Regions from separate parts of the Homo sapiens genome. Here all the other regions are reported to be linked to region 1. Evidence: microRNA targets listed by miRTarBase, many of them from high-throughput screens and not tested one by one. Region 1 holds a microRNA gene; each other region holds the end of a gene's coding sequence. Distances are from middle to middle.

Evidence for each region. Region 1 holds the annotated microRNA hsa-miR-6809-5p (UGGCAAGGAAAGAAGAGGAUCA, at 1,880-1,901, opposite strand). A microRNA usually pairs through its seed, bases 2 to 8, with sites in the 3' UTR of a target mRNA and lowers its output. Matches are read on the target gene's strand: a 7mer-m8 pairs with bases 2 to 8, a 7mer-A1 pairs with bases 2 to 7 and ends in A, and an 8mer does both.
Region 2: the mRNA of PCSK4 is a reported target of hsa-miR-6809-5p. Seed matches in the 3' UTR shown: 7mer-m8 at 445-451.
Region 3: the mRNA of ZIK1 is a reported target of hsa-miR-6809-5p. Seed matches in the 3' UTR shown: 7mer-A1 at 1,819-1,825 and 7mer-A1 at 800-806.
Region 4: the mRNA of LIN54 is a reported target of hsa-miR-6809-5p. The part of its 3' UTR that is shown has no 7-base or 8-base seed match.
Region 5: the mRNA of TMEM182 is a reported target of hsa-miR-6809-5p. Seed matches in the 3' UTR shown: 7mer-A1 at 1,867-1,873.

The regions. Positions count from the first base shown.
Region 1 is chr2:217,898,723-217,903,317 of GRCh38, forward strand. It overlaps MIR6809 (microRNA 6809), which reads right to left and starts at 1,906; the gene lies at 1,791-1,906. TNS1 (tensin 1) reads right to left here. Exons shown (of 33, transcript NM_001387777.1): 7 at 1,741-1,790.
Region 2 is chr19:1,479,132-1,482,181 of GRCh38, reverse strand. PCSK4 (proprotein convertase subtilisin/kexin type 4) reads left to right here. Exons shown (of 15, transcript NM_017573.5): 15 at 1-754. The coding sequence ends at 423. C19orf25 (chromosome 19 open reading frame 25) reads left to right here and starts at 2,967. Exons shown (of 3, transcript NM_152482.3): 1 at 2,967-3,019. RefSeq lists an enhancer at 2,801-2,920.
Region 3 is chr19:57,589,862-57,594,456 of GRCh38, reverse strand. ZIK1 (zinc finger protein interacting with K protein 1) reads right to left here. Exons shown (of 4, transcript NM_001010879.4): 4 at 567-4,446. The coding sequence ends at 3,182. Among named protein-coding and RNA genes, the nearest start is that of ZNF530, 7.7 kb to the left of the region's middle.
Region 4 is chr4:82,924,641-82,929,235 of GRCh38, forward strand. It overlaps LIN54 (lin-54 DREAM MuvB core complex component), which reads right to left. Exons shown (of 13, transcript NM_194282.4): 13 at 1-3,663. The coding sequence ends at 3,462. Among named protein-coding and RNA genes, the nearest start is that of THAP9-AS1, 26 kb to the left of the region's middle.
Region 5 is chr2:102,813,783-102,818,377 of GRCh38, reverse strand. TMEM182 (transmembrane protein 182) reads right to left here. Exons shown (of 5, transcript NM_144632.5): 5 at 699-3,630. The coding sequence ends at 3,410. Among named protein-coding and RNA genes, the nearest start is that of TMEM182, 54 kb to the right of the region's middle.

The DNA.
Region 1 (4,595 bases):
GCAGCCGCCAGCACCATGCGTTTCCCGGAGAGGTGGGGAGGCCCCTGGGCTGGCCATCCTCTCCACTGGGCACTGGGTGAGGAAGGGAGGGGCTCGCATCTTTACATCTCTCCCAACTTTTCTTCCAGAGGAAGGGTCCAGGATGCCCACTTGGGAAGCCCACCTCTTGCTTCTAGAAGCACCTCCCCCATCCCTCCAGCTTTTTCCCCAATCATTGACCTCCTAGTGTCTCGCTTCCCCCTCTATCAAATGCAGGCAGCACTGACATTTCATTCTGCTAACCTTTCACCACAGCGGGATAAAGTGGAGAGTGGAGGGCAGCGAAAGGAATACCACTGGGGTATTTAAAAGTGATGAGGGCTCTCTGGCACTAGACAGAACAAGCCCCCAGATGCTGAGAAGCCATGAGGAATCCAGACCTCCACCAGGGTTCAATCCCAGTCCAGGTGGGGTGTGGAGATGGGGCAGCCAAGGATGAGGCATGGCAGGACCTCTCTGTTGGGATGACAGGGGCCTGAGTGGGACTGGGGACCAGCACCCAGAGGTAAGGAGCCCGGTTTGAGTTTGACTCTGAGTCCCAGCTACTTCTTGTCCCTATGGAAAGCTTCTCATTGCAGCTGTGGGGGAGAAGTTTCTATCTCAAGCCAACTGCCTACCCAAGGACAGTTCTTGTAGGTGGTGACCAGTCTGGGACAAGAAGCCACACGCACACATACCTGCAAGCAAGTGGGTGTGAGGGCGGGGAGCCTCAGCTAACTTGCAGCATCCCCTCCTCCCCATCCTCCAAAACCCCTCTCTGTTCTGGCTCCAAGGAAGAAACTAGAATGTCAGAAAAACTCGCAAGACAAGCTCCTGTGATTTCAGCCTCTCCCTCAGCACAGGAAGGGGAGCAAGAGGGGCCGTGCTGGTGAGGGCCATGAGTCAGACGTGGCCCATCTGGGGCACTGACCCGCCCCTGTCTACAGGCTGGATCCCAGGAAGGACGCAAATGCAGAACAGTGCCACCAGCCGGACAGCCTCAGCATCACACTCTGCATCCACCTGCCCAGGTCTAAGGGAAGGAGGGGATCCTCTAAGGAGCCACCTCCAGTCTGTGGACAGCTGGCAGCTGGGCCAGAAACTTCCAGGGGCTTCAACTCTACTGCAGGGCTGGCATCCCCAATCATCTCAGGAGCCTCAGTGGGTGAAGGTGAGGCAGAGAGGGCAAAACAAACTCTCTGGATCGCCAGGACACAAAGTCCCTTGTGCATCCCCTTCCCCCGGCCCCTGCCAGCCCAGCCAGATAGGGAACTTCCCTTTCATAAATGACTCTGCCCAGTCAGAATCCTGTCTGCAGAGAGGAAGAGATCCAGCACAGGCCTCAATGCTCATCAGCCCTAAACGCAAATCCAAGTGCTGCCTCTTGGTGGCTGTGTGACCTTTACAAGTCACCTCATCTCTCTGAAATGCTGCTCTACCAAAGGGAATAAAATACGTACCTTGCGGGGTTGTTGCAAGGACTAGATGAGCTCATGCAGGTAAATAAAGACTCAGCTCAAGGGCTGGCTAAGAGCTCAAAACACAACTGTTGCCAACGGCATCCGCACGCATCCTCTCCTGTGCCTTTCACGTTTGCCCACACTCCCCACCCGTGGCTTTATGGCTGCAGTCCGGGGGACCCAGAGGCAAGACTTAACAGGGACACCCACAGTGACCCCCCTGCTTGCACTCCCGCCCCCTGCCCCCACGGGCCAGGCATACCTGATGGGCTGGAGGTGGGGCTGGACACTCGGGGTGACCCTGGTGGAGCCCTGGGAAGGAGAGAAGAGAAGCAGCATTATGCAGGGGTGGGCAGGATGGCAGGAGGAGCACACCAGAGAGCTGTCCACGGGGGCAAACATGATCCTCTTCTTTCCTTGCCAACATTCTGGCCCTGCCACCCTAACCCCTGCAAAAACACAGCCTGCCCGAAGCCAAAGCCATCAACACTGATTCCACGTGAGTGTGCCTGCCTGTGTGCAAGCCCCAGAGGGACAAAAGGAAGAATCCCGAATGCTGAGGAGTGCACCCCACTGGGCTGGTGCCATCCACACTGAGGGCACACTCAACAGTTACTGAATCAATGGAAACACACTTCACTTTGATACACTCGCCAACACAAGAGAAACCCCAGGAGGAGAATACGACTGCCACCACAAAAGGAGCGATGAGAGTAATGGCGCCCCTCTGTCTTGCCACCATCACCCCACACTTCTCTGCTTGAAAGCTGTAACATCAAGTCATTCAATTGAGTTTAGAGACCAGAACAGGCAGGTGGAGCATGCAGGAACCAAGACGAGGCCTAAGACAGTGAGCCATGCTCCTGAGGGCCCACTCCCCACTGTCTGTGGCAGACAGTAACCATCTCACCCACTCCCCTTTTCACAGCTGTCGAGTGGTACAAACTTAAGCAAATGGGCCCAATCCATCCCAGGGCAGCAGGATGGCATGGCGGGTGTGAAAGCACAGGGTCAGAGGCCCACAGACCACAGAGTTTGGATTCCAGGATCCTGCTGGGCAGCCCTGCCAGTTACTTAACCCCTCTGAGCCTCTTGTAATGTCACATGTAAAATGGGACAACCTTCAGGCTGGCAGTGAGGATCCAAAGGAGTTATGCATATAAGGCACTTCGCATCATGCCTGGTATTTACCAGATGACAGCTGTTGTTTTTGTTGTTACTTTTGTATCAAGAAAAATGAAAAGGGTAGTTACAACCAAACATTCACCTCTATAGAAAACCAACACCCTGCATCGCCTCTACCCATCCTTCCAGTCACCTCACAGGATGCAGAATTGGGAAGGCCAGTTTCTAGATTCTCAGACCTCCTGAGCCCATTGACACCTTCCAAACACCCATGTGCCTCTCAGAAAATGGTCTTTTCCTACCGCCAAGTTGCAGCCTCTTCTTTAAAGAGACAGGACCACAATCTGCCAAGAAAGGAAGAAACTGAGGCACAGAATAACTTACCCTCAAGTCCCTGGGAAGTTGACGGCCAGGCAGGATTCACACTCCAACCTGGGGCTTGACCACGGGGTCTCCAAGAAGAGGAGCCCCTGCACCCCTCTCCTGGCTCCGCAGTGCCTACGAGGCAGGATAGGTGGGTTCCGAGGTCCAGCTCCCAGCTGAGCCCCAAGTTAGAGCAGCTCTGCTAAGAGGGGGACCCTCCATCCAGCTGTCCGGAAGAAGGCTCTGCCCAGAGTCCCAGCTGCCTCGGACCAATGAGCAGCTCCTCAGCAGTGAAGGAGGGAAGAGCCAAGTGGGGCTACTGGGGGGAAGTTTCTAAGTCTCACAGCTCTTCTGGCCCTGAGGACTCCAGTTTGCATGAGTCAAGCTTGGGGGTGGGGGGATTAGACAGGGGTGGAGCTGGGAGTCAACGAGTGACTGTGTTTGGTTTTCAAGACCCAAACCAGGCTGTTCCAAAACTGCCCCCTCAGAGGAACACAGAAACCCAACAGTTCACCCATCTCCATTTCACTGGTCCCTAATGAGGAGTCCCTGAATCTCCCCAGGCCCTAGGCCCTGCTCCAGGCCCCAGGGCCACCCTGCTATAAATAGCCCCTTGAGTTTCATCTGTTGCTGATCCGTAGCCACTTTTGGAGGAAGCCACCACAGCTGCTTTGAACAACTGGAAGCCACAACGGTAGCCAAGACGTGAGGTGTGGCCAGGAGCATGGGACCAGACCCAGGGAGCTGGAGAAAGACAATGGGCCATATTGATATGGGCTTGGCAGGGGGAACTGGGGAACCAAGGGGGGCCGGGAGCCTGCAAAGGTGCAGGGGTAAGCAGGACAAGCAGGACAGGAGACCTGGCTCCCCTTTCCCCACCGCCCTCTTCCAAACATTACAACACTCCACATTCCTCAGCCTCCCCACCCCAAAAAAAGCCAGTGAAGATAAATAAAAACTTGGCCCAAACAGAGTCTGGCCAGGCCGCCTCCAGAGGTGATAAGGCAAAGTCCAAGCCCGCTCTGCTCCACCGGGCGGGGAGGGGAGGGGAGGCATGGGGAGGAAGCCACCCTGGACAGTGACCCCAGTGCAGAGGATGGGGGACGAACAGCTGGGACTGTCATCCCCTGATGAATCACTGGGCTGCCCTCTCACTGACGGGGCTTCCTGTTTTCTGCAAAGTTTGGGGGCACGTGACCCTTGCTGGCGGACAGCAGACATGCACGGTGACACGTCTGAGTGTCGGTACACACAGACAGACAGAACTCAGAGAACAACAAATGGGCTGGGGCAGGGGCACGGCATGTCAGCAAACACACCCTACTGCTCCAGAAACACAGGTGACCTCACACGAGGCTAGAGATGGTGCCTTTGGAAGCATGCCTCATCACGTAGGCTTTTTACAAGCACAGTGGGAGTAACACAAGGCATCCGGTCATCCCTGGGCCTCCAATCTTCATGCTCATTCTCTCATTCAGCAAACATCCACCGAGTGCCACCAGCTGTGTGCCCAGCCATGTTCTAGACACCAGGGGACAAAGGAAGTGAAGTCCCTGACCTCAGAGAGCTTATATTTTACAGACCATGATACTCATCACCATACCCAGTGTGAGGAGTAGAGGTTCCGTC
Region 2 (3,050 bases), not on the chromosome of region 1:
GGACAGCTCTGCCTGGCCTACTGCCCCCCGCGGTTCTTCAACCACACAAGGCTGGTGACCGCTGGGCCTGGGCACACGGCGGCGCCCGCGCTGAGGGTCTGCTCCAGCTGCCATGCCTCCTGCTACACCTGCCGCGGCGGCTCCCCGAGGGACTGCACCTCCTGTCCCCCATCCTCCACGCTGGACCAGCAGCAGGGCTCCTGCATGGGACCCACCACCCCCGACAGCCGCCCCCGGCTTAGAGCTGCCGCCTGTCCCCACCACCGCTGCCCAGCCTCGGCCATGGTGCTGAGCCTCCTGGCCGTGACCCTCGGAGGCCCCGTCCTCTGCGGCATGTCCATGGACCTCCCACTATACGCCTGGCTCTCCCGTGCCAGGGCCACCCCCACCAAACCCCAGGTCTGGCTGCCAGCTGGAACCTGAAGTTGTCAGCTCAGAAAGCGACCTTGCCCCCGCCTGGGTCCCTGACAGGCACTGCTGCCATGCTGCCTCCCCAGGCTGGCCCCAGAGGAGCGAGCACCAGCACCCGACGCCTGGCCTGCCAGGGATGGGCCCCGTGGAACCCCGAAGCCTGGCGGGAGAGAGAGAGAGAGAAGTCTCCTCTGCATTTTGGGTTTGGGCGGGAGTGGGCTGGGGGGAGAGGCTGGAGCACCCCAAAAGCCAGGGGAAAGTGGAGGGAGAGAAACGTGACACTGTCCGCCTCGGGCACCGCGTCCAACCTCAGAGTTTGCAAATAAAGGTTGCTTAGAAGGTGCTCAGTCTGTGGCCTCCTCTGGAGCAGGGTGGGCCCGAGGCCCCAGGGCTCAGGTGGTTTCTGCTTGGGGTCCCCGGACATCAGTCCATGGAGAATGCAGCCGGCCACGGAGAAAGAGTCCGCCCAGGCCCAGGGACCCCAGGCAGTGGGAACAGCAGGGAATGGCCGGGGGTCAGCAGTAATGTCCAGCCCCAGAACATGGCTCACCATGGCCCAGAATCCTCTCCTGCGGTGATTCCTTTGTTTTTTTTCTTGTTTGTTTTGAGACAGGGTCTCCCTACGTTGACTAGGCTAGAGTACAGTGGTGCGATTGTAGCTCACTGCAGCCTTGAACCCTGGCCTCAAGCAATCTTCCCTCCTTGGCCTCCCAAAGTGCTGGGATTACAGGCGTGAGCCACTGTGCCTGGCCCTTTCCTCCCTCCCTCCCTTCCTTCCTTTTCTTTACTTCCTTCCTTCTTTCCTTCCTTTCTTCCTTCTCTTTCCTTCCTTTTTTAGTAGAGATGGGTTTCACCATGTTGGCCAGGATGGTCTCGATCTCCTGACCTCGTGATTCGCCCACCTCGGCCTCCCAAAGTGCTGGGATTACAGGCTTGAGCCACCGCACCTGGCCCCTTCCTTCCTTTCCTTTTCTTTCTTTCTTTCCTTCTTTCTCTTTCCTTTTTCTTTCTTCCTCTTTCTTTTCTTTTTCTTTCTCTCTCGCCTTCCTTTCTTCCGTTCTTCCTTCTCTTTCCTTCCTTTCCTTTCTTTTCTCCCTTTTCTTCTTTACTTTCTTCTCTTTATTTCCTTTTTCTTTTTTTTCTTTCTCTCTCTCCTTCCTTCCTTTTTCTTCTCCTTCCTTCTTTCCTTTCTTTCTCTTTCTTTCCTTTTCCCTCTCTCTGTCCCTTCCTTCCTTCCTTCTCTCTCAACAATATTTTTTTTTTTGAGACAGAGTCTTGCTCTGTCGCCCAGGCTGGAGTGCAGTGGCACGATCTCGGCTCACTGCAAGCTCTGCCTCTCGGGTTCATGCCATTCTCCTGCCCCAGCCTCCTGAGTAGCTGGGACTACAGGCAACCGCCACCATGCCTGGTTAATTTTGTTTTTCTTTTTGTATTTTTAGTAGAGACAGGGTTTCACCATGTTAGCCAGGATGGTCTTGATCTCCTGACCTCGTGATCCACCCACCTCGGCCTCCCAAAGCGCTGGGATTACAGGCGTGAGCCAACACACCCAGCCTAATTTTTGTATTTTTAGTAGAGACGGGGTCTCACCATGTTGGCCAGGCTGGTCTCAAACTGGCCTCAAGTGATCTGCCCGCCTCGGCCTCCCAAAGTGCTGGGATTACAGGCATGAGCCACCGCGCCCAGGCTGAATTTACAGTTTAAACAGGCGAATTTGGCCGGGCGCGGTGGCTCACGCCCGTAATCCCAGCACTTTGGGAGGCTGAGGCGGGCGGATTGCCTGAGCTCAGGAGTTTGACACCAGCCTGGGCAACACAGTGAAGCCCCATCTCTACTAAAATACAAAAAAAAATTTTGACGGACGTGGTGGCGGGCGCCTGTAGTCCCAGCTACTCGGGAGGCTGAGGCAGGAGAATTGCTTGAACTCGGGAGGCGGAGGTTGCAGTGAGCTGAGATCACGCCACTGCACTCCGGCCTGGGCGACACAGTGAGACTCTGTCTCTAAAAAAACAAAACAAAACGAAATAAACAGGAGAACTTTATGGTATGTAAACTGCATCTCAATAAAGCCCCTGAGAGAGGAAAAGGGCCCTCTGCTCTTTCTGCCTTCCCAGGCATCAGCGGAGAGGAAAAGGTGACCTCCAGCACCGTCCCCGAGGTGGGAGGACCCGCCTTGGCCGGAAGTGGAGGCGCCGCGACCGCCCCGCCCCCGCTGTGTTCCGGCCGCCGAGTGCTCATGCACCACCAGGCTCCCTTAGGTGGACAGCAATTTTGTGCTCCCGTCAGCCACATGGGTGGCGTGTCCCCTAGTGCCGTGTTCCCCTTTTCAGAAAGACGAGCCTCGGATGCTTTTCTACCCAGCCAGTGGAGCCTGGACTCGAACTCGCTCTCATCGTAGCGCGTCCAGGTTCGGGTTCGCCTGAGAGGCTGAGATCCGAGTCTCAAGGGCACTATCCCTTTAAGACGGGGCGGAGCCCCGCGATGAGCGGCGGGCCGGCGGGAGAGGAGGCCGGAAGTGTGTGTCACGTGTTCGGGGACGGGGCGGTGCTCCGACCGGAATCGGAAGTGGCTGCGTCGTCGACGCTGGGCTTTCGGGTCCCGCGCCCAGGTGGGAAGAGGCCGGCGACTGGGGTGACCGC
Region 3 (4,595 bases), not on the chromosome of region 1:
TTTAGGGTAAAACGTGCAGCTCTTCACGTCTTCAGACTTTCTTGCCAAGACTCATGACCATTGGGGGAGAGAAGCATTTTGATGATATCTATGCTACTGCTTCAGAACATAGGTGACCATGACAGCTTCACTTCAAGATGGCATCAGTCTTGCCACACCACAGGCTGTATGGTTCCTACATACATGATCTTCAGGTTATCTGCGGCTACTGTATTGGCATGGTGAAAGTAGAATACAGTGGTGTGACGCTACCCACTTCTTCTCAATTCATGTTCAGTGACATTATTTTGACACCTTGTAATTGGCCATGGTGGGAGTATTTTACCAGGGAAATTGGCAAATATTAAAAACCAGGGCTTATTTGTTTCATTGAATGGTTAGACCTAAGAAAGTGATGGAGAATTTGTCAATGAAGGTAGTGTTTCAGGTATATAGTGTCTGTAGTTGTTACACTGTGAATAGACCAAAAAACTGAGAAATTATTTTCCCAGTATTTGAAAACAATTTTATCATTTAGCAAATAAGTGCATCACATTACTGAAGAATGAGTAAAGTTTCAACATAAGTCTTTGTTATACGTCTATTTATTAATGAAAAAGTATCACCAACATCCATTTAAAAATAAGCAAAAGACATTAATAAACATTCTTCCAAAGAGGATATACAGGTGGCAACTAGATACAAGATGTTCAAATGTTCAATACCATAAAATACCAGAAAAATGCAATAAAATCACAGACAGATGCTATTATACAGCTATTAAAACAACTAAAATTAAAAAGACTAACCATACCAAGTATGGCAAGAATGTAGAGAAATAAGAAGGTTCACATACTGTTGATGAGAATGCAAATGGTACAGTTAGGTTATAGTCTGGCCTTGTCTTTAAAAGTGACGCATTCACGTACACTGTACTACTGACACAGGAGAAATAAAGCATTTCTGCATATTAAGAGTTATATGCCTATGTTCATAGTAGCATTATTTGCAACAGCCCAAAACTGGAAAGCATCCAACTGTTTATCCAAATTGTGACATATCCACAGACTATTTCTCAGCAATACAAATGAACTATTCACATAAGCAATATTGATAAATCTTAAAAGTAATTGTGCATCAGCTGGTGTGGTGGCTTACGCCTGTAATCCCAGCACTTCGGGAGGCTGAGGCGGGCGGATCACGAGGTCAAGAGATCAAGACCATCCTGGCAAACATGGTAAAACCACATCTCTACTAAAAATACAAAAATTAGTTGGGCGTGGTAGTGCATGCCTGTAGTCCTAGCTTCTCAGGAGGCTGAGGCAGGAGAATCGCTGGAACCCAGGAGGAGGTTGGAGTGAGCCAAGATCATGCCACTGCACTCCAGCCTGGTGACAGACTGAGACTCCATCTCAAAAAAAAAAAAAAAATTGTGCATCATCAGGAAAAATGGAGTAAGTATTTTACGTTTCAATTCACATAAAATCCTAGAAAACACAAACTATTCTCCTGTAGGGAAAGTAAATGACAGGACTCCTGAAGGCCTGGAAAGTACACGCAGAGATTGTAAAACAGCAAGAGGTGAATCATGAATATGTTCATGATCATGATTATGGTTTCACAGGCTTGTATGACAAACTCTTCAAATTATACACCATAAATGGATGTAAACTATGGCATGTCACTTACACATCAAGAAAGTTTGTAAAACATGTTTCACAATAAAGTATCTGATCACCCAACTTTCAGAAACCAGAATGCCTAGCAATCTCATGTTGACTGCACTCTCTCTTCAGGCCTGGGGAAGGGCAACCATGAGTCCCTCCATGCAGGAAATGTTGGCAAGCAATGAAGGCTGTGGCAATTTGAGACAACAGCAACACTGGTGGAAATCACAAGAGCTATCAATACATCCCTGGCCTATAGGACTTCTGTTATCTTTATCCTCCTTTTTCTGCCTCTACAGCAATGCACTTGAGGTGAACAACCTAGAAAACCAACAAGAATTAAAAAATAAAACCCTTTAATTATTTTTGCTGAAAATAACCTCAGCTATTGGACATACACAGATTTCTAGGTCCTATGACTGCTCAAAGCCACAGTCACGGGAAGATTTGTAAATGTACTTTTATAAGAGGCACATTCCAACTAGTTTGCTACAGTACACACAGTACAGAAATACCCAGGTATTTCTGTACCAATTACAGTTCACATGTGACTCGCGTTGTCTTCTGCGTGACATCGGCCTATGGAATGTTTGATATCAGGGCATGCCTCCTTATAGAACCCCATGAAAAGCTTCTCAGCAGCACTGGGCATCATATGACATCCTCTGGAAACAATGGAATAAAATTGTCCTATTCCCTGAAGCACACATGCTTGTCATAACAGCTGGCCTCTCCTCAGGATGACCTCTAGTCTCACAGAAAGAATAGGGATCCAGGCCACAAATTAGAATAACCAAAACCTTGCATTTTTTCCTAGGAGATTTTAGGTAGCAAAGCAAGTATGACCAAAACCAGAATTAGAATTACTCTGTCATCTTACTTTCCTGCAGAGGCCCACAAAAGCCATCCATTCCTTCATATAGAGTTGAAGTCTGTCTCCCAGCCACCCCACACAGTAAACAGAACCCCAAGACTACAGGTAGATTCAAATATAAGGCTTTTATTAGTGCACAAACTGGAGCAATGTGAGGCAGCCATTCACCACGTGGTGACATGGAGGCTGGAAGAATGACCAAGTGTCATGTGAGACCAAGAATTTACATGAAGGGAATCCTTGCACATAAGTGTCCAGCAGAACCAAGGCTGGGCCCTCCTGACCCAAACTGGGTCACACGTATGCTGTGATCAGTCAGAAAAAAGAATGAATTTTCTCTAAAGGCTTAGACTGCTCAAGATTTCCTCCAAAGACTTAAGAGAACACACAGATGTCTGCCTTGTCTTAGCACATAGGAGTGACCAGTGCCCACTGTGCAAGGTGGTAGAGGGTAGATGGTTTCTACCAGAGAAACAAGGAAGAATGAGGTTCAACTTCAGGCAGATGGCTCCCTCACAAAGGCTCTCTACTGCTACAATACTACAGAGACAGCACTTTCCCTGTAGGTCTAAGGCTCTACTTAAGTGTGGACTTTCAGGAGCTAAATGATGATAGATCTTGAGTTGAAGGCGCTTCCACATTTGCTGCATTCATGAGGCCTCTATGTGTTATGACATTTTTGGTGATGTATGAGGCTGGAGCATTGGCTAAAGGAATTCCCACATTTGTTGCACTCATAAGGCCTTTCTCCAGTGTGAACCACTTGGTGTTGAATGAGACCAGACTTTTGGCTAAAGGACTTTCCACACTGGCCACACTCATAAGGCCTTGCTCCAGTATGAATTCTCCGGTGTTGAATAAGGATGGAGCTTTGACTAAAGGATTTCCCACAGTCACCACACTTATAAGGCCTTTCTCCAGTGTGAACTCTCTGGTGTTTAATGAGGGTAGCTTTTTGACTAAAGGATTTCCCACACTGGCCACACTCATAAGGCTTTGCTCCAGTGTGAATTCTTCGGTGTTGATTAAGAATGGCACTTTGACTAAAGGAATTCCCACATTCACCACACTTATAAGGCCTTTCTCCAGTGTGAACTCTTTGGTGTTTAACAAGGGTGGCTTTTTGGCTAAAGGATTTCCCACACTGGCTACACTCATAAGGCCTTGCTCCAGTGTGTATTTTCTGGTGGTCAACAAGGCTGGAGTTTTGTCTAAATAATTTTCCACATTCGCTGCACTCATAAGGCCTTTCTCCGGTGTGGATTCTCCGATGATCATTCAGGTGGGAGGTTTGGCTAAAGAATTTTCCACATTCATTGCACTCCCAAGGCCTTTCTCCAGTATGGACTCTCTGGTGCTGAACAAGTGAGTACTTGCCACGGAAGGCTTTCCCACATTTGCTACACTCATAAAGCTTTTTTCCAGTGTAGACTCTTGGATGGTAAACAGGAGTGTGTTTGTGCCTGGAAGCCTTCCCACATTCACCTGACTTGTAATGACTTTTTTGACTGCGAATGTCCTCCCCACATTCAGTAATTGTGCCGGGTTTCTTGCCTCCAGGAAAGACCAGGGACCTCAGAAGCCGCAACATGGCTGGAAGGTCCTTTCCAACCTCCCATTTGCGAAAGGGCTTCAATGACATACAGAATAGGCAGCACTTCACATATGAGGCTCTGTCCATGTCCCTCTTCAAGGATTTCTTTGCACTGTGATGCTTCTGGTGCTGGTGATGGTTTGTACATTCTCCAACCAAGTATGGTTTCTGCCCAGGGAGATCAGCTAGATGCAAAATATCTTTCAGGACTGGGACACACATCTCACAGGATTGAGTCTTCTGTGTGGATGAACCTGCCTTTGACTGTGACACTCCTACAGAAACATTCTGGTCAGAAGGTGTCTCTTCATCCTCTGTTCCATGGCCACAACCTGAAAGCAGAGAACCGCTGATGAAATATACATTGACTATGCTGAGAGCAAGAAGCCCCATTACACACATACCAAACGAATGATTCACCAGGTTTGTTTTGAGGATAATGGAGCTGGGGGCAAGTTGAGGAAGGGGTTGCTTTGCAATA
Region 4 (4,595 bases), not on the chromosome of region 1:
TTATAGCTTTCAACTCATAAAATCACATGGATTAAAAAAAAAAGCTCACCTTTGGTATACAGATAATGACAAAATGTGCATTCAAGAAGCCCTAACAAGAAAAGCCTGAAGTAATTTACATGATGAAAATAACTCCAATAGAAAGGGATTTTTAGTTGATTGCCTTCCCTTCTGCTTTGGGTAGCCACACCAGAATTCCTATATAAAATGCTTAAGAGATACAACATGATCAAAGTTATGGCCGGAGGTCCTGCTGTGAAGCTTCATTTACATAACAAGTATTCATTTTCTTAACTATTTGTGTTACAGAACAATAAAAATAGATAACTTTTCTAAAATTATTTTTATTCACATTTTACATAAGATTGAAAAAATGTCAGTTGTTCACTACCAGAAAATGGGGAACTAATCACTCTGTTTGCTTTTGTACCTGTAACATTAAGGTTCTGTTTCCCAGACCCCAGAGATAAGACCTACAGGTTGTGTTTAGTGCTTCAGAAAAAAAGGAAACTAAGAAAGATAGCTATCATAAGAACATTTCACATTAAAAGACAGAGTAGATTGATTTTCTAGGTATTTTTGTTTTTGAGACAAGGTCTCACTCTGATTGCCAGGCTGGAGTGCAGTGGTGTAATTTTGACTCACTACAGCCTCAACCTCTGCAGGCTCAGGCCTTCAAAGTAGCGAGGACTGCAGGTGTGCGCCACCACACGCAGTGAATTTTTTTATATTTTTAGTAGAGACAGGGTTTCACCATGTAGCCTGGGCTGGTCTAGAACTCCTGGACTCAAGTGATTCACCCGCCTTGACCTCCCAAAGTGCTGGAATTACAGGCGTGAGCCACCATGCCCGGCTGAGTTTCTGCTCTTAAAAGAAACAGTGGGGAAAAAAAGAGAAGACATATTCTCATTTCAAAGCAATTTATGTTAGTAATAACTGAGCAAAATGATAGAATTTTTTAGTTGTGTGTTTTCAGAAGTAATGTCAAATTTACTTCAGATAATTTAAAAGGTTTTTTGCATATTAAATGGTTAATAAAGTGGTGTTATTATACTAAAGAAAAAATGCAAAACCTTTTTTACAGAATAGTATAAATGTTTATTTTCTGTATGATTTACTTTGCTGTCCTGTTTTTACAATATAGAAAAGTGTATTCTTTGAATAGCTCTAGTAAATATAAATTTAATCTTTCTACTTTGGGATGTAAATAGAGCTAAAAAATTATATACCCAACCCTCCCCAAATAGTCTTTTAAAATCATTGAATTAATGTGGCTATTCATCTTGTTCAGCAATTTGATGCAAATGCCTGAATACAAAAAGTTATTTAGTAAGTACTACACAGGAAGGAAAAGGCTTAATATTTTAGATAGATAGATTTTTGAAAATCAGAAAAACTAGTAGCATTTGATTGCACCTTGAAATTTTTTTACAAGCAAAACATTCGTAAGCAATGCCATCATACATAATCTACAATTGTAATCAAAATTTCACGAACATTTTCTGCACACTGTATATAAATACACATCACAAAGGTGCAATTAGAATTAACACAGAGTATGTACAAAATGAACAAAGTTTAAGTTTAGACCAAAAACTTATTGCAATCTTTTGAAAAATAACTTGATTATTATTTTACCCTCTTACACTAATTTACATTTATACAAATTTTAATTAAACATACTAGATTGAGGTGCTAAGAATGTTTGAACTATCTACATTTAAAGTTACTGCACTATGATTTTATAAATCCAAATTTAAAAGGAAGATACTTTAGTGAATAACGGAATCCTCTTTTGGATTACTTAATTTCTATTGCCTATATCTTGCATGTTCATATGAACATATATACACACTTAATACATACAACTATAGAGTCCTTGTAGGAAATGAAATAATCATATACTAATTACTGATGATTAAGGTACCTAACAAAATGCCTGAATTCCAACATGGTTTTTTCTTGTCATAAAATCAAGAGTCCTGTCACAACAGGCTCTTAAATTCATAGAGTTTTTGAATACTGAAAATGATTTAGGTTATTTTAGTAATTATAGGAAAACAGACCTTCCAAATCACTGGCTGAAAATAATGCCATATTAAACTTCCCTTATAAAAAGAAATCCCACCACAATTTTGAAAATTTTGTTAGGAGGCCCATTTCTGTAAATCAAGTAAGAGTTGCGATTTGGTTTGAAACCTCTTAGTTCAAAAGTCTATAAAAAGGGCCTGGCACGGCGGCTTATGCCTGTAATCCCAGCACTTTGGGAGGCCGAGGCGGGCGAATCACGAGGTCAGGAGATCGAGACCATCCTGGCTAACACGGTGAAACCCCGTCTCTACTAAAAATACAAAAAATGAGCCGGGCATGGTGGCATGCACCTGTAGTCCCAGCTACACGGGAGGCTGAGGCAGGAGAATCGCTTGAACCTGGGAGGCAGAGGCGTTGCAGTGAGCTGAGATCTCACCATTGCACTCCAGCCTGGGCTACACAGCGAGACTCCGTCTCAAAAAAAAAAAAAAAAAAGTCTGTAAAAATAATTGATTGTATAGATGAAAACTTCTCTAAATTCATCTTTTGCAGCTTCCCTATTCTTTGTTTCTCCACCCATGCCAAATTTTATACTTGATTACTATGTGAGGTTCTATATTATCACTACATAATGTTTACTTCCATTTATATCCACCTATCATTTTAATAGTACCCAGTAATCACTTTGACAATTTATTACTTCAAATACATACCACCTCTTTGAAAGAAAATGGAGACAGCCCAGAGCATCTGTTAGCCTTTCCTTATTATAGAAACACATTGCCCATCCTCTGAGATTTACTGTCCTTTAATATTTTATATGTTTTTTTAAATAACTTTAAAAAATTTTTAGTGTGCCTGGGGATTGTTTCCCCTTCTGACATTCCCAAAGTGACAACAGGATATTATTCCAGAATCGGCCCTAAAAGGCTGCTTTTTCTTTAAAAGATAGTCCTTTTCTAAATACAAAATGTCATTTGAATGTGTTTCATAAGAATTTGTTTATGTAACATTCTGTCTGCAGATATTCTAGATCAAGTCCCAAAGAATGGGTGCTAACCACTGCTGCTTTGGCTTTTCTATTAACAAAGTCATACAACACCATACATTATAAATTATATGAATTTATAAACATTTTTTGTCAAAGGTATCAGAAAGAGAACATCTAATTCTTAAGAAACCCAAGCAAATTAAAAAATCTATATAATAAAGAAAAATTCAATTTAGAAGGGGCATAAGCAGATTTAACTAAGATTTAAAATGTACTAATTTCCTCATTTAAAATTTCTTCTCCTTCAGTATTATAATTTCAGGTCTTTTAAAACAAGGACTGAATTAAAATACAGTAATTGTTTTTCTTCCAGAAAATCAAGTGTCCCTGCACCTTAAATTTTCTGTACAGTTCCATTTATCAGTCTTTTGTGCAAGAGTTAGCAATTCATGGCACAAGGGTCACTTTTTGCCTTTCCTGCAGAGTTGATGACACTCATCAAACATCGTCCGAATTCCTCAAGTATCATCCGTTCCGCTGCTGCCTTTGATTTTCCCTTCTTGTCTGCCTGCTCTGCCTGGGCAAGGAGGCAATTACATGTGGCTTCAGCTACTTCCTTAGTTACAAATGTAAATGGCAATCTGAAATGATTTTTGAAAGAGAAAGATGATGGTGGTGTTAAATAACAACAAAAGTGGATAACATTCTTTCATCTGGAAATCTCTACTGACACTTTCACAATTCACCAGCAGGATGAGCATCACAATTTACACAGTGAGCACAAGCACATCCTAAAAAGGGCTTTAAAAAGTTAAATTTGGTTTTATTCACATATTGTAAGAATATTGTTCAGGAAATTTAACATAAAACACGTTACTTATTACCTAGGCAAGGTTATGTGGTTAACTAAAAGATAATAGTCTACACGAAGACTAGAATTTCTTTAACTAAAATCCTCCTAAATCATGAATGTACGCTCTGTAAGTTCAATTCTTATTTACTGCTGTTGCTCCAGTGCCTAGAATAGTGCATGACATAGAGACGCTACATGAATAGTTGCTGAATGAATGAATAATACTGGGAATTGACAGCACTATCTCTTCGGCAAAATGAAAAATAAAGCACTTTACCATAGTCACTGATACTGTTTGTAGAAAACATTCCAAAATTCTGCATCGTTCTAGCACAACAAAACAAAATGGCGAAACCAAATGTTCTGTACACAGAGTTGCATTCATAAAGACCTGAGCTATTGAGTATTAAATTGGAGCAACCCATCGTGAGGCTTGCTATATTTGCAGCCAACTCAAGTCTTAAAGCCTGTGACAGATTAAGTCAAGCAACATAATCTAAACCACTAACTCAACAACCTGTGAGTAAGCGGTCACTAACAGAAGTATACTAAATAATGAAGTCTGAAATTAAAGCTCACTATGGCAAGAGAGGGTAATTGAGAATTCAGGCTGCCATGCAGCTGTATAGGAATCTTTAACATACAAACAAGCACTTTAAACTAGAAAATATTAATTTAAGGTTTTGGTCACTTGAAACAAGCTTGTTAACATGCTAGCAT
Region 5 (4,595 bases), 120 Mb from region 1:
ATGCTTATTATAATACGAAAGATACTATATCCCCATCCTCCTTGGTTTTCAACATATCTAAGGTATTGTCATCCTACATTCTTATTGGAATTTCCCCACCTACCCTTGATCATCACTGAGGAAATGTCTCCATATATTTAACTCCTTCATACAATCAATAAAAATGTAGTTTTCTGTTTCATCTCTTGTTTATGAGTTTCCACTTCTGGTGGAGTCCCAAAAAAATCAAATCTGGTTTTGATTTAGCTCATCTTATATTTTCTTCAATGTAACCCCATCACCATTGGTCTTTCTCACAATTCCACCGACCTTCAGACATATCCAGCCAATTTTACTGGTATCCAATATCTGCCTAACACCTCTGACATTCTAAGTCTCTTTGTAAGTCCAACATGGTTACTTTTAAGAAAATAGAAATCAAATTACGTGTTGAACTGAATAAACCACCATCCATTGAGTGAAACAGTTAAAGTGGCACTCAGGGAAACAACAATAATAGATTGCTGTTCCCAAAGATAACTGATTTTTTTTTAACTTGCTTAGCTCAAATATATTGATTTATACCATTCAATGTATCTCTTTCTACCCAAACATATAATACACATGCACACTTACATACACACAAATATACACAGACATGCACCCATATATATTGATGATAGACAGATAAATAGATGAATAATTACCAACACTGACACTTCCTCCAATATATTCCTTTATAATTCCATTTAATCTTCAAATTTAATAAATATATTTATAGATTAGTAATAAAAATGACTAAATGAATACTAACAACACACTTGATATTACTTTTTTTAGAAAGCCCTACCATCAACCCTCAAATTGTACACGATCATTAAACTTCTCTGTGTAGTCTCTCCAGCCAATTCCAATGTATGTGCAATCATCCACCTGAGTGAATTAAACCAGCTGAACAAATACAATATGGAGAGATGATAGCTTTCACCAAGTCCAAGAGCATAACTCACTGCCCTTTTTATTCACTCTTTCTAAAAGTGTAACTGAAAAGATATCCTTGATAAATTGAAACTTTATGATGCAAAATCAACATTTTTCAAAAAGATTCTAACACAGTTTAAAGGCTTCTAAAAATTAATAAATACAACCAATAGAGAAATAAACATAACATGGACATTTGGCAACACAGTATCTCAAATCAGATATAAGGTTGCTACAATAATGTACTATATAACTCTGCCATTTTTAAGTATATTTCACTCATTGACATAGCAATCACAACTCTCCTTCATTCCTTCAGAGGGTTGCTGGTAAATTGATCAAGAAATGTGCTTGAAATGTATTTGATTGATGCATTACAACTATAAAATAGTTCCAAAGTGCAAATCTGTGTAAAAGTGTCATACACATCAGCTATTCAGCCAATTGTCATATAAAAAATATATGGTAGCCACTTAAGTGTACTATAAAGTGAGGATAACCATCTGAAATTTATAAATATTCAAGCCTTTGCCGAAAGCAGCTTGTATGTGAAACTTAAATGGCATACAGTACACCAGAAAAAGGCTCCATTCCAAAGTACTACAAAAAAGAATTGTATTTACAGATGACATGAACTAATCAGATACATCCAACATCGTCTGGAAAACTTAATGGCATGCCATAACTTAATATCACAGTCAACATGCACAACAGACCTCATAATTATTTTTTCTAATAACAAAGCCAAAAGCAAAGAAGTAAATGAAGCAATATAAAAATGAAACAGTGAAAGACAAAGGGAAGTACCACAAAAACGTTTCAATGATATCACTGAAATGACTTGAGAAACCAGTTAGGCCTCTGGAGCTTTATTATTATTATTATTATTATTATTATTATTATTATTGGCAAGTCCTGTCATGAAAATGCCCTGAAGATTCAGACCTTTGCAATTTTTCCAAAGCTCCTTCCCACTGGAACAAGTCTTAATGGAAAAGCACAAGATGTACAGAGAAGACTGGGATCACCTCTCCCACGGCATTGGAAGAGCTGATGAAAAGGAGCAGTTCCTCTATCCCAGAGCATCTTCTGGGTGGTGACTTTTTTTGCCTGTGGGCCATGCCTCTCTGTCCTCACAACAGCTGCAGAATGAAACACCGCACCTCCAACAAAGCTCACATACCCTGCCGAGCTCCCCTGCGATGGAGGCTTCCAGAATGCAAATACGAGCTAGGCATCTCAGATGGATTTGATTTCAATCAACATTAGTGCCAAATGAACATCTTTGATATGCAAAATGTCTATGCTACTGAATAATACAGAATCATCTTTCCCCACAAAAACTTTCTTCTAGGAGGTTAAAGGAAATAGTCGATCTGTAAATGTTAATATATCTATTGTAAAGATGAAGAAATTGAGGGACAGTAATTAAAGGAATCAAATGATCAGAAGAACTGGAACCCATAACATCTTGGGGAAAGTTAATATTTTATGGTCTTTAATAAAGCAGGGCTATTATAATCCTCATATGGAAGTACGTTGAAAGTTTATATCTAAAAAATATTAAAATCACATTTTATCAATAAATTTTCACATGCTGAATGATAGCAATATAATTTTTAAATGAGAATTTTAAAATATCAAATAGAATTATGGACCAAGCGGAAATGCTTGGTTTTTACATATTTTAAACAATATTACATTATACAATTAACTCACTTTAAGTTCATAAAAATTCAATCTACGTTATACATAATTTGGTATGCAGATTTGCTAGTTTTAAATGTAGTTTAAAGTTTATGTAAGCATGCACAATTAAGTGAATAAAACTAGGTAACCAAACCACTGTTGGTGAAAAAGCAAGATAAGTACATGCTCTCAGTCTTGTTTGTTGTGGCCCATTTTAACTGGTGAGTACATGGCTCCCACTAATTAGAACAACTGCTGTCTATTTTTAAATTCATTTGCTCACAAGAGCCAGTGAATGTGTATGTGGATATTATCTGTGTGGGCAAGAAACAAAATAAATTCTCTGACAACCTTGCCCATTCTTAATTATTCTTCAAGGATTTTTTTTAATTAGCAGAAGTGAATGCCAAGGAGACTTTAAGCCAAATCTATCGAGATTTTCCCCATGTCATGGTATTAAGCTATTATCAGGCCTTTGCGACCTGCATGAACTCTAACATGTTCAATGAAAGGGAGACCTGTTTACCTATTCCCTAAAGAACTAGGTCCTTGACAGCACTTAGACAAGATAGAGGCTTGCTGGTGTCTGGAGAGATTCTAGGACCTTCTTACTGAAGAAAATTTTAGTAAAATGATTAATTTGAATAGCAACTAAAAAGTTATATCTACTAACTTTATGCTGGGATCAATGAAACAAAATGGAAAAAAAGTATTCCTTGTTTTAAAATCTCTCAAGAAAATACTTGTGGCAACAGTTGATTTAGTGATGTATCTGAATATGCCATCCAACAACCAGAAATAGTAATCCAGCTAGCAAAGAAAAAAATATCCCAGCTGGGGCCAGGAAAAATGACCAGCCATACAGAACAGAAGGGGTGAAATCCAGGCAGTCCTTCATTTTCATGTTTCGGTAGCTTTCCATGTCAGCCACTGCCTGGACCCAGATGACATACAGCATCACCACCAATGAAAATAGGATGCCTGAGAAGGATGAAACAGAAGACTGTTAGCCTTTCTGAAGATGTTTTCTCAAGAACGCTATCTAAACCAATCATTGACCGGATGACAAGCTCCTGCAAATACATTTCTAGCAAAATCAAATACTCTACGTCAGACCTTTTATTATGTACTTTATAGATATTTCTTTTATCTTTCATCTTCAAAGCATTGAGAGGAGGGCTATAGTAGCCTAAGAACAGCAATCACTGACAGGTATTTATTGAGTGTTTCCTGGGTGCCAAGGACTGTAGTAAGTGCTTGTGAACATTAGTGAATATCTCAGCACTTGTAGAATTTATATTCTAACTTTTTTTTTTCTTTTTTACTGCACAAATGGTTTGGGATGAGCACTATACTATGTTATTTCTTTCAATACATAGAATAAACATTGAAATAGGTACACTTACCACCTGGTTTTAGATATACACAGACACAGACAGTGGTTTTCAGAGCTGATTTTCAGCCCGGGTCTTTCTGACTCTTGTTATACTATTATAACCCAGCTAACTAATGCTGCAATTAAATATGGTTATACAAATAGAAACCAAAGTAAGCACTAGACAAGAACGGAGATGAAAACACTGAACAAACATAAAAGAATATACGTGATTCTTCAGAATCTAAATATATATATATATATATACACACTAAAGATTGATTACAGCATAGAGAAAACATTGTCTTGAATAAATGAGGGAGGAAGATTGATGATAAAAGATTTTGTGTAATATAAAATCATGGATTAGAGATCAACAGCCATATTAAATGAAAGAAAAAAAGAAAGAGAGAGAATGAAGGAAGGGAGGAAGGGAGGAAGGAAGGAAGGAGGGACAGAGGGAGGGAAATAACAAATGCCTAACCACTAACTAGAGGGCAACATCCCAATTTAGCAACAATTACAACGTAACTGTAATCCACTGGTTCCAAACACTCTTGGAATTAGATGA